Linked DNA regions of Homo sapiens. The protein of the gene in region 1 purifies or fractionates together with the protein of each later gene. This does not show direct contact. Each region holds a gene or a part of one and is shown on either strand. Other genes may lie near its edges.

What was found. The genes of interacting proteins can lie anywhere in the genome.
Region 2: the proteins of ARL6IP5 (region 1) and RTN4 purify together in Homo sapiens (affinity purification with mass spectrometry; 4 studies listed by BioGRID and IntAct, with this or other methods). This does not show direct contact.

The regions. Positions count from the first base shown.
Region 1 is NC_000003.12:69,094,936-69,101,969, forward strand, and holds part of ARL6IP5 (PRA1 family protein 3), read left to right. Parts: intron 1-6,903; coding exon 6,904-7,034. UniProt on the Homo sapiens protein: Regulates intracellular concentrations of taurine and glutamate. Negatively modulates SLC1A1/EAAC1 glutamate transport activity by decreasing its affinity for glutamate in a PKC activity-dependent manner.
Region 2 is NC_000002.12:54,971,668-54,977,464, forward strand, and holds the end of RTN4 (reticulon-4), read right to left. Parts: intron 3,098-5,797; coding exon 3,028-3,097; intron 2,201-3,027; coding exon 2,154-2,200; intron 1,955-2,153; coding exon 1,896-1,954; intron 1,532-1,895; coding exon 1,489-1,531; 3' UTR 522-1,488; downstream 1-521. UniProt on the Homo sapiens protein: Required to induce the formation and stabilization of endoplasmic reticulum (ER) tubules. They regulate membrane morphogenesis in the ER by promoting tubular ER production.

The DNA of each region.
Region 1 (7,034 bases):
TGAATCACGTTGGGAAGTTTAGGACCTGTATCCACACCCACTAATAGCCACCTTGTTTCAGAGAGAAATGAGAGTGCAGAGGGATTTTCCAGGATGATCCTTGGTTATAGTAGGTTACTTAGAGTGTGGGGGAAATCCTTAAAGCCGGTTAACATGACAGAATGGGTTCTACTGTGAGTTGCTGCCACAACTGGCACCCTTGTTTTCTTGTTTCTCTCCTGGATCCCTTTGGATATGTTTCTTCTCTGGGCCTCAGTTTAGTTATCTGTATAATTGGACTAGACTGATTCATCTTTGAAGACTGCTACAAAATTTCTGTGATGGGATTCTAAACCTTTTTATAACCATAAATGACTGCTCTAGAATGTGTAACTATTATAGGGAAAGATTTATTAATTATTTATTGGAATTGGGTAATACATGTTCATATTTTAAATATATATAATTAAAATATATACAAACATATGTATTAATATATTTTTAATTTCACAATAGAAAAACATAACGGTTTTTGAGTTGCAAAACTAGGTCCTGCTGTTTCTCCCTTCTTTCTCACCATCCCTCGTTCTTTTTTTTTTTTTTGAGACGGAGTCTGGCTCTGTCACCCACGCTGGAGTGGCACAATCTCAGCTCACTTCAACCTCCACCTCCCAGGTTCAAGTGATTCTCGTGTCTCAGCCTCCTGAACAGCTGGGATTACAGGCATGCGCCACCACGCCCAGCTAATTTTTATGTTTTTAGTAGAGATGGGGTTTCGCCATGTTGGCCAGGCTGGTCTCAAACTCCTAGCTTCAGCTGATCCACCCACCTCAGCCTCCCAAAGTTCTGGGATTACAGTTATGATCCACCGCACCCAGCCCTCTTTCTTACTCTAGGACTATCAGTAAGTGAAACTCCACCCAGCAGACCACAGAGGCAGCTGTCTACATGAAAGATGGGTGGCATGTTTATGGAAAGTTTTGTCCTAAAAGTCTTTGGGGTTTGTCGTGATTGCTGTGATAAACAGCCCAACTGTTGACTAAAAAGCATCTCAGGCAAGAACTGGTTCCCAGATTTCTGAGAATTTCTGTTAATCTGTAGAGGGTGTGTGTGTGTGTGTCTGTCTGTCTGTCTGTCTGTCTTTTGTTCCAAATACAGGTAAGTGCCAGGGCATTGGAGTGGTATACATTTTATCAGATACAGAAGAAAATAATTTCTGCTCAGAGTAACTTCGTTAGTTTTTTTCCAGCTTGGAAACTTGCTTGCTTTCTAATTATAGACTGTTGTTGGGCAGGTTATGAACTAAAACCAGTTCTATAGAACTTCAGGCTCTGTTCTTTTCTCTTGGACATGAGCAACCAGAACAGGTGAAACAAATTTGGAATTGCTTGAGTTAGGCCTGGATTTTTCATTGTTCCTTGTCCTGGACTTTAGGCACTCAACCTAAATATGTATTTTACTTGTCTAGAGGAAAATAAAAACAGCTTGACATGAATTTTGTTATATGCTTCACTTCATGAATTATTATTTTAATAAGTATTCCAGAATGAACTGAGTAGGAGCCCTTTGATGCTTTGCTGCCAGCCAACCCACTCCTACTTGCAGGGTATGCAAAGGAATTTCCTTGAATTTCAATCCTCCATTTGAGTTCTTTGTGTTGATTTGATCTTTGTTTTGCTTTGCTTTTTTTTTTTTTTTTTTTTTTTTGAGACGGAATCTCGCTCTGTCACCCAGGCTGGAGTGCAGTGGCACAATCTCGGCTCACTGCAGCCTCCGCCTCCCGGGTTCAAGCAATTCTCCTGCCTCAGCCTCCCAAGTAGTTGGGATTACAGGCACATGCCACCAAGCCAGGCTTAGTTTTGTACTTTTAGTAGAGACGGGGTTTCACCATGTTGACCAGGATGGTCTTGATCTCCTGACCTTGTGATCCACCTGCCTCAGCCTCCCAAAGTGCTGGGATTACAGGTGTGAGCCACTGTACCTGGCGATCTTTGTTTTTCTTTACGGCTCAGAAGAAACATTTGGGTAGGTTATAGGTCAAAGTCAAGGCTTTGTAAAGGGTTTTTTACATTCAGGAGCCTTTCCCCAATTTCATTTGTTCATTTTTAAATACCAATTTTTTTTATTCATCAAGGAATACATGGCCATTGAAAAAAATATGAAAATAAAAATAAGCAAATGGAAATAAACTCCCCTTATCCTACTATACTGTAGTCTTTGGTATAATTTTTCAGTTTCTCTAAGTATCTTTTTATTTTTTAATTGAGACAGGATCTCACTCTGTTACCCAGGCTAGAGTATAGTGGCACCATCACAGCTCCCTGCAGCCTTGACCTCTGAGCTCAGATGATCCTCCTACCTCAGCTTTCCAAGTAGTGGGGACTATAGGTGTGTGCTGCCACACCTGGCTAATTTTTGTGGGGTGTTTTTTTTTTTTTTTGGAGAGATGGGGTTTCGCCATGTTGCCTAGGATGGCCTCAAACTCCTGGGCTCAAGCGATGCATCCGCCACCTCGGCTTCCCAGAGTGCTGGGATTACAGACATGAGCTACCACACTGGCTTAGAATCTTTTGTGATGCTGGGAATTAGATAATATTAATCTATAAGAGTTTCAAGGCCTCTTCATTCACTCTCCACTCTCTACAACCTGCTGAAGGGGATTGTGGTTTTGATTCATCAGATTCTTTCCTTCCTCAGGCGTATAAGGGAATTTTTTCTTTCCCAGACCAATTCCGGGGTTGTCTCAGAAGACAGGGCATAATCCAGATAAAATAAAACAGAAAGAAAGTGCAGAGAGGCCAAGTAGACCCAGGTAACACAGAACCAAGAGGGAGGGGAAGAGGGCAGAGAGAATAGCACATGTGCTGGGTATTGGGGAAGGTTGGGGCACTGGGGTGCTATAGACTGGCACAAGAGGATCTGGAGGATGAGCAGAAAACCAGGATTTGGATTGGAGAAGGAACAGCTTCGCTGTGGTTCATGAACTGAAATTCCATTAATGTTGTTGGCGAGATGGGACAAGTAGAGATGGACTTTTGTGGTTGGTCTGTGCCAAGCGGCGGTTGTGGGTTGGAGAGCAGCTGCTTTTATGTTTTTGTATTTCCTTTTTTATATATTCATTTTATTTCTGATTATGAAATAATATACTAATTATAGAAATTTCTATTTCTTTTTTTTTTGGAAACAGAGTCTCACTCTGTCACCCAGGCTGGAGTGCAGTGGCGCAATCTCGGCTCACTGCACCCTCTGCCTCCCGGGTTCAAGTGATTCTCCTGCCTCAGCCTACCAAGTAACTGGGACTACAGGTGCCTGCCACCATACCTGGCTTTTTTTTTTTTTTTTTTTTTGAGACATAGTTTTGCTCTTGTTGCCCAGGCTGGAGTGCAATGGCACCATCTCGGCTCACTACAACCTCCGCCTCCCAGGTTCAAGCAATTCTCCTGCCTCAGCCTCCGAGTAGCTGAGATTACAGGCTCCCGCCACCGAGCCCAACTAATTTTTTGTATTTTTAGTAGAGACAGGGTTTTACCATGTAGGCCAGGCTGGTCTTGAACTCCTGACCTCAGGTGATCTGCCCGCCTCAGCCTCCCAAAGTGCTGGGATTACAGACATGAGCCACCATGCCCAGCCCAGGCCCAGCTAATTTTTGTATTTTTAGTAGAGGTGGGGTTTCACCACGTTGGCCAGGCTGGTCTCAAACTCCTGACTTCAAAAGATCCACCCACCTTGGCCCCCACAAAGTGCTGGGATTACAGGCTTGAGCCACTGTACTCAGCCTAGAAACTTCTACTTCTGAGCTATCTAACTTATATGATAAATCTACCTAACAGACAATGCATTATGTATTACAATTGCTTTTACCCACTCAATATATAATGTCTTCCCATATTATTAAATGCACTTCAATGTTTTAAAAATAGCTGTGTATACAATACCACAGCTATTGGTATTGTTGGCCATATAGGTCGTTTCTGAAAGTTTTTAATCATAAATACCACTAATATCAATACTGTTACAACTCAATCTTTGCGTTTTTGTTTAATTCCTTAGACTATATTCTGAGGAGGGGATTTATTGGCTTGAAGGATACAAGTATTTGCAAGGATTTTGAATGAAATTAGCAACTTATTATTGTAGAGTTTAGTTTTAAATTATGTACAACTGGCTGGGTGCGGTGGCTCATGCCTGTAATAGCACTTTGGGAGGCTGAGGGGCGGGGGGGGTGGGGGGTGGATCACATGAGGTCAGGAGTTCGAGACCAGCCTGGCCAACATGGTGAAACCCCGTCTTTACTAAAAATACAAAAATTAGCTGGGCATGTTGGCGGGTGCCTGTAATCCCAGCTAGTAGGGAGGCTGAGGCAGGAGAATTGCTTGAACCTGGGAGGCAGAGGTTGCAGTGAGCCGAGATCGCGCCATTGTACTCCAGCCTGGGCAATGAGTGAAACTCCATCTCAAAAAAACAAACAAAAAAAAATTATATGCAACTACTCTTACCACTGTTTAGCTTTGTGCATCTTAATAGAAATTTTTAGCTTTTTCAAAGCAGTTTGACATTGATTTTATCCCTTAATTTCACCCATTCAGGTGTGAAAAGCTTTTACTCTTAATTTTAAAATGTTCAAAATTCCTTTTATGTTTCAGTAGGCAGAAACAGAGCTAAAATTTAAAGGGATTTTTGAAAAAGAATTGTATTTATCCTGAATACGAATCCCAATATGAGCATGAGTTCTTCATCTCTTCCATTTCAGAGAAAGTAAGCTCTTGGCATCACCCTCCCTTATCCTGTCTTCCCCCTTCCCTCATTTCAAATCAGCAATGTTACTATTCAGGGCATGAGGAGAACACACTATCGTCTGTGTCCTTCCCAAGTAAAGTCCTCATTAGCCTCTAGGGTAAAAAGTTAAGTAACTCATTGTACCAGCCCACCACAGACGTCTTGTTAAGGGTTTTGTATACACAGTGGATTGGGGTGGGCGACTATAATGCCCAAAACTTTGTCTAAATTTCTTCTTCTTATTATCATTATTGAGACAGAGTTTTGCTCTTGTTGCCCAGGCTGGAGTGCAATGGCGTGATCTCAGCTCACTGCAACCTCCACCTTCTGAGTTCAAGTGATTCTCCTGCCTCAGCCTCCCAAGTAGCTGGGATTACAGGCATGTACCACCACGCCCAGCTAATTTTTGTATTTTTAGTAGAGATGAGGTGCCACCATGTTGGCCAGGCTGGCCTTGAACTCTTGACCTCAGGTGATCCACCCACCTAGGCCTCCCAAAGTGCTAGGATTACAGGTGTGTGCCACCATGCCTGGCATAAATTTCTTCTACATAATGTGTTTCCTCCATTATCAATAGTAGTGTAATTGCTATTACATACTAAACATTTGGCTTATATAAGAATGAATCTGGAACTGTGTGCTTGAAAATCTGCATTGGTAACTCATCTCCTAATGATACTTTGGGCATTTTAAAACACTTATAATGAACTCTCTATGTGAGGAGTCATAAACTCAAATGCCTCCATGGGGCAGGCAGGTTATGTAAGAGAGCGATTCAGGCCAGCTATTAGAAAAACAATGATTAGACTGGGCATGGTGTGGCTCATGCCTGTAATCCTAGCACTTTGGGAGGCCGAGCTGGGCAGATCACTTGACGCCAGGAGTTCAAGACCAGCCTGGCCAACATGGCAAAATCCCACCTGTACTGAAAATACAAAAAATTAGCTGGGCGTGGTGGCATGTACCTGTAATCCCAGTTACTCGGGAGGCTGAGGCACAAGAATTGCTTGAACCCAGGAGGCAGAGGTTGCAGTGAGCCAAGATTGCGCCACTGCACTCCAGCCTGGGTGACAGAGCAAGACTCTGTCTCAAATAAAAAAAAAAAAAAAAGAAAAACAGTGATTAATAGCACCTCACTTTGGGCCTATGTGTCCATGATGCAGTAGAGAGCAGTGTGGACTGGAGCTCAATGGAGACTGTTTATTCTGTCTGAATGAGAAGGCACTCAAGCCAGCTGTTGACATGTGGGAAAGTGGGCCTAGCACTGTTATTTTCTTGTTCCAGGAGAACAAGAAATCCCAAGTTTTCTGGATTTTTTTTTAACACATGGGTTTCAAGTAAAAGTTTTTTAAAACACTGTACAGGCCAAACAAAAATGTGACTGTATACTGGATCTAGCCCATGGAGGCCATTATGTGGCCTGTATTCTACATTCGTCCATCATGAGCTTCTCTGAGGATTTAAATAAACCTTTAGAGCTAAGAAAACACAACCTACTGTGTACTAGAGCCCAGGATGTAAGGAAGCTAAACATAGTACCTTCAAAAGAAGTTTTAGTCTTCAAAATTGTGGACCTCTAACGAGATACTTTGATGGGAACTGCCTGGGTGTGATCTCAGCTCCACCTTTTTTTTTTTTTTTTTTTTTAATGAGATAAGGTCTCACTCTGTCACCCAGCCAGGAGTGCAGTGGGGGAATCTTGGCTCACTGGAGACTCAACCTCCCAGGTTCAAGTGATCCTCCCACCTCAGCCTCCTGAGTAGCTGGGAACACAGGTGTGTGCCACCACACCTGGCTAATTTTCATATTTTTGTAGAGATGGGTTTTGCCATGTTGCCTGGGTTGGTCTTGAACCCCTGGGCTCAAGTGATCCTCCCACCTTGGCCTCTGAAAGTGCTGGGATTATAGGTGTGAACTACCATTCCTGGCCTTCCCCACCATTTTCTAACCTCTGTGCCTTAGCTTCTTCATTTGAGAAATGAACTAATAGTATCTCCTTTATAAGGTTATGAGAAATCAAATGAGACAATTTAGATAAAGTATTAAAGTATTAGTAAGTTCTCAATAATTGTTTTTACTCCTCTTTCTCCTTTTGCTACTTCTATTGCTGAACTAGTCACCCCTCATTTTTTCTTCCTCATATTTCAGGTTTCTGAGTCCCTTCAACATGATCCTGGGAGGAATCGTGGTGGTGCTGGTGTTCACAGGGTTTGTGTGGGCAGCCCACAATAAAGACGTCCTTCGCCGGATGAAGAAGCGCTACCCCACGACGTTCGTTA
Region 2 (5,797 bases), on another chromosome or scaffold:
CAATTCTGTTTTCTGTAACCATGTGACTGGTGATGCAGAGTGATAACCATGTCTGCCTATCTTGTACTAGACTCTTCATGCTGATCGGATCTTGCATTGAAATAACCATGTGGAAGAACAATGAATCGATTAATGATGACATGTACAACCATATTTAAAGAGCAATAGTGTCCGTGTGTCATGAAAAACTTATTTGTAAACGTTTATATGGTATGATTTTGATTTTATGTATGTTCATAAATCCTGCACTGTATGATATATGTGAGTTAAAACATTGGTGCATGAATTTATTTTCAAAGTATAAAACACATCACTTAAACATTTTATGTGTCAAATAAAATTTGATTATGTAAACACATTTGTTGACTTTTGTTTCCACAGTAAACAAACAAACAGCTGCACCATCAGCTGAAAAAAACCCTTCTAAAAGCACAAGCTACCATTCGCTGGTTGAAGCAGTTTACCCACTGTGTGCATTTTTAATCTGCTGCAATTTCATGAAATGAAAATACCAAAGCATATTTTAAGTCTATAAGCTTTATTGATACTTTGCTTTTACAGTTCACAATGCATTCCACAGATTTAGTTCAGTACAGCTTAAACCACAATGGTATAAATCTTCATTTTGTAATTAATAATTTCTTGCATAACAATGTTTGATATTTGCAAACAAACAACATTTTTGGAAGCATTAGATTCAGTCCATAGATTCTGTGACAAAATTAACTACAGTCAGTCTGTGCAATGAAATTGATGTTGGAGTTCTATGTGTGTGGCATTTCATGTTGAAAACAGATGGTAGTGCTCCTAGAAATATTTCTTCTTCTAGCTTATGTGCTTTGGAACTACACATGTATAACCAATGACTGACTCTGAAATATCAAGCACTGTGGGGTGGCTGGAAGGTAAAGGTCTAAGCTTTGTGAAACACTATACATATATAATCTATATTTACTTATATTGGCAATTAATATAACAGTAAAAGTCACAATACACCTAGAACATACCAGAAAAGCAAGCTTTGTCATTCCTGCTTTACCGGTATGATCTCGTCTAAACAAACATTTCATTTCAGAAAATCTGCATCAATCTACACGGACCATACACAGTGCACAAACTGAAAAGGGCTTTTTTTTTTTTTTTTCTAGCTCCACCATCTCTGCAACTTGCCAAGATGCGGCAAGACTATCTGCAACAAAGTAAAATATACAGGTTTTTTATTCCACCAGTGCCTCAGATAGATAGGAAAAAGATATGATTACGGTTTAAATCCATACATAGCAGCTTACAATACTTAAGATGATGAACACATGGCAGTCAAGACAGGTAATTTTTCCTCACAACAGTGCATGGCTAAAAATAAAGATCTAACAACGATCTGTGAAACTGCACTGCAACGTCAAGGTTCGTTCTTCCCTGACCCTCCCCCGTATAATCAAATGAATATCCCCTTTAAAGATGAACTCCTACTAATTATTTTGGGCGTTTTCATTCAGCTTTGCGCTTCAATCCAGGGATTTTTGCTTGGATTCTGAAAATGAAAAAGTCAATGTAAATATCAGTTTTGTTTGCTGCTGCTTAAAATACCATCTTCCAAGAACTACTTGTATGTTATTCAGCTAATACAATAAATGAAATCCTTAAAGCTGCCTAATTCTAAGCTATAATTTTGCCACCTTGGCCTCATGAATTAGATTTAAACAAAGCCTTAAACACATAATAAACCCAGAAACGAATGGTCCAAATGTTAGAAAAACAATCTTTTGGCAACTCTGAAGTCACACTTAAGGTCTGATAGAGATTTGTTACTCATTATGCCTGCAATATGAAAATACTGTTCTCACAATCCAGCACACCTTATCCTAGTAAAAACACTGCAGATTTTAAATACTTACTTAGCCATAGCATCTTTAACATTCTTATTTGCAAGTCCTAGATAATGATCTATCTGTGCCTGAAAGAGAGGTATAAAGGAATTATTACCGTTGCTAAAGAATCTTATTAACCACTACTATGTGTCAAGCTAAAGGCTTAAGAAACCATCACACTTCTCATTTTTGTAAGACATTGAAAATGGGCACTAATACATCCGTAAATCCCATGTAATAGAGTGAGTGCTCTATTCTGAAGTCAGCAGTTAGTTAGGAAATTACCTGATGCCGTTCATAAATAACAGGAACACTGAAGAGTGAAATGAGAGCTGAAAAGGGAAATATACAACTTTTCAAAAAGAACGGAATGATTTGGGAGGAATAAACACTCAAAAAACTATTAAACTGGCAACTCAAGATAACCAAGCAGTGTTCCTAATGAATGAATAAAAACATAAGGATCTCTGGATGCATCTGCTGTTGAGGAGCCACTCCAGAGGAATGAATGAACTGTGTGAGGCTGCAGTTATTAGAGCTAGGAACCATTTCTAGCTTCAAATCATATCACAGTGAGATTTCATAAAATAAAGGTATCCCTGGTTAGATTTATGACTGCACCATCATATAAAGCCACCCTTTATCTGGTTTATCACTGTTTGTTAGTAGGAGCTGTCTTCAGCAACTAAGGTAGCATTTCAATAAACCGGGAAGCAGTATCACCAACTTATTTAAAGAGAATACAACCTCAAACTTATTTTGAGATGGAGTTTCACTCTTGTTGCCCAACCTGGAGTGCAATGGCACGATCTCCGCTCACTGCAACCTCTGCCTCTTGGGCTCAAGTGATTCTCCTGCCTCAGCCTCCGGAGTAGCTGGGATTACAGGCGTGCGCCACCACGCCCAGCTAATTTTTTCTATTTTTAGTAGAAATGGGGTTTCACCATGTTAGCCAGGCTGGTCTCGAACTCCTGGCCCCAGGTGATCCGCCCACCTTGGCCTCCCAAAGTGCTGGGATTACAGGCATGAGCTACCGCGCCCGGCCCACATTTTCATCCCCTACTTTTCATACAATGAGAATATTCTCCACTAAAATGTCTAAGCTCCTGGCACACAATCTTTCCAGCAATTTTTCATCCCAATGGCTTTGTAGACTTACCCAAAATCAGTAGTGTCAGACCATTAAACAAGGCACCAACATAGGTAAATACCCACATCAACACTGCAAACTATAAGAAAATAACATTAGCCCATTATAAACAAAATTCAAGTAAAGTTTCTTAATTATGCTTTCAAAAGCATCCCATCTAAATGCCTACCTACAAAAGGCATACAACTTGAAGACTGGGTAAAGTACCATGAGCAGTTCACTATTAAGTCACGAGTCTCAATTATGAATTTCAAAATCCTAAAATAATTAATAGATTTGACCCATTTTCTCTGGACTACACTACCAAGTAGTTGATTCTGCTGAGATCAGACAATATACCAAGGGTGCATCTTACCCCTCCAGCCCTAACAACATTTACCTTTTAAATGGGAAGACTATAAAGGTGTTATGAGAATTGTCTATTAGAATTGATTTCAAAGTATGAACTAGTTGAGTGCTTGAAGATATATGAGCTGAATAATTCAGACATTAATATCTCAGCTGATAAGCAATAATTGGGCAAAGAGTACTTATCAGGGAAATTACGTTTCAGGTACCAAAAATATCACCTCTAGCCTTTGAAGGATCAGGCACAAAGTCAGTCTGAATTTTGTTAAACATTGGTCATCATCAGTTCCTTTGCTTTCTAATTCAAGGCCTTCATGTGTATGTCTGGCAATCACTTTGACCTACTTAGTAGGTAACAAACATGATGCCACCAGCTACAGTGATTATTTAGGCTTATGTAACACTATAAATGAAAAGGGGAGTAGTAGAGCACCCCCATTATCTAAAGCGGGGATCAGCAAACTTTCTCTGTGAAGAGCCAGACAGTAGAATTTTAGGTTTTATGGGCCACATAGGGTTTGTGTCTCATATTATTCTGTGTCGTTGTCATAACCCTTTAAAAATGTACACCACCCACTCTTAGCTCCCACACTATACAAAAACAGGCCGTGGCCCAAACAAGCAGTGGTTTGCTAACCCTTGATCTAAAGCATATATCTTTCTCCATGTATTAAACGAACTCTGACTGAATGCTTACTGACCATTAATTAAGCAGTCAAACATTAGTAAGCATATTTATTACAGCTTAGGAAGACACTTTGGATGACTCTACCAAGCAACAGTTCTACAAATAGCAACACTCTGGTCACCCTAACTGAATTTAACTAATGTTCAAGTCAGTAAATATCAGGCATTCTTAATATCTGTCAATTGAAAAAAAATTTTTTTAAGCTGCCGTATTCTTAGCAATTGCTATTGGAACCCCTGGTAGAAAGGTTTGAAGGATGACTTCAGTTAGTAAGGCTTTTCTCTCACAGTTTTATAGACTCCTATTGCTGAAGCTAAATATAACTTTTGCACTTGAGCAAGTTTACTATAGAGTAAGAGAGTTATTTTTATCCATCACTATCCACAAGTCTAAAGGGAAAAGTGTTGACCTTCCATATTTTAGAAGAAATTACTCTAGCAACGAAGATGCCCTTAACATGACAGAAGATAGTAACAAACACAAGCTAAAATAACTCCTCATTTGGTCATTACAGTCACTGACAAGGCTTCACTCCAAGTCCACAGGGGAAAAGCCCAAGACTTCACACCTGAGCCACTGTAGGGGCTCAAATGTCACTTGCCTCTTTGAGAACACTTCCTAAAAGCCAGGCTATCCCAAGACAAAGAGAAGAACACAGGGAGGTCTCAAATGTCCTTAGGGCCAGGCAGGTGACATACATGTATGTGAGAGGCTGGGAGAGAACTGAGGCACACAGTGATATGCATTCTTCCTCTCAAAGGGGCACTTACAACCCTGCTCCATACGCTGTGGCCATGCAAATATTCCAGGCCAGTGTTGCCAGAAATGTACACTTTTGTGTGCTATCATATAATTTTTAAATGTTGCAGCTATGTTGAGAAAACTGAATACTTCGGCGGCCCAAAACAGAAATAGTGGTTAAGTGTATTCAGGGAACACACCACCAGGAGAGAAAGGGGTGGCAGCAAGAACTAACCTAGAGAGTAACCATTATTAATGGGAATCCACCACAAATGATGGATTTGTAACATGGCAGGAATAAGGTCAATAAACACTTTAAAGAAGCAAACAGGCTGCTCTCATTTTGGACTTAACAAATTCTACACGATTCCATGGCAAATACTTTGCAACATTATAGCCAATACTTATTAACTGAAGAGGTCAAAGCTTATCTCTCCATTGCACAGTATCGAGACTGGAGGAAGGAGGCCTAAAATGTAATGAAGATCTAACAAATACTTACTGAAAAGGGGCAAGGGCCACATCTGGTTTATCTTTCTTCCAGGGCAATAAGAGAATTAAATTCACTGTGTATAACACACCTGATTAAAGAGCTCTGCAGATTTGTGATGTTTCAATTTGGGGGAAGGGGTATCTTTAAGGCAAACGGTGGGAGAGTGCTTAGTAAGATCTCAGAAATTACTCTGGCAGTTCTGACCATTTCAAAACTTTCCTGCACTCTCAAACTCTAAACTCTACTTGCCCTTCTGTGTCTCCTTCAGATTCATTCATTAGTTGGTAGTTTGGACTCTCTCTATATCCCCAGCCCACTTCCTTCTAATTTTTCTGAGAGCTCAAGAAACCTGAAAGGAAGCTGTCAAAATGTGAATGTTAACAGCTGCCTATGAGCCTGAGAGCTAGATTTTAGTGTTCTTCTGGGTCAGCTATTTCTGGAGCTCAGGCCGTTTTTTTTTTTTTCTTCCTCTCACTTTCAGATTTAAGATTGTGTTCTGGAACATTATA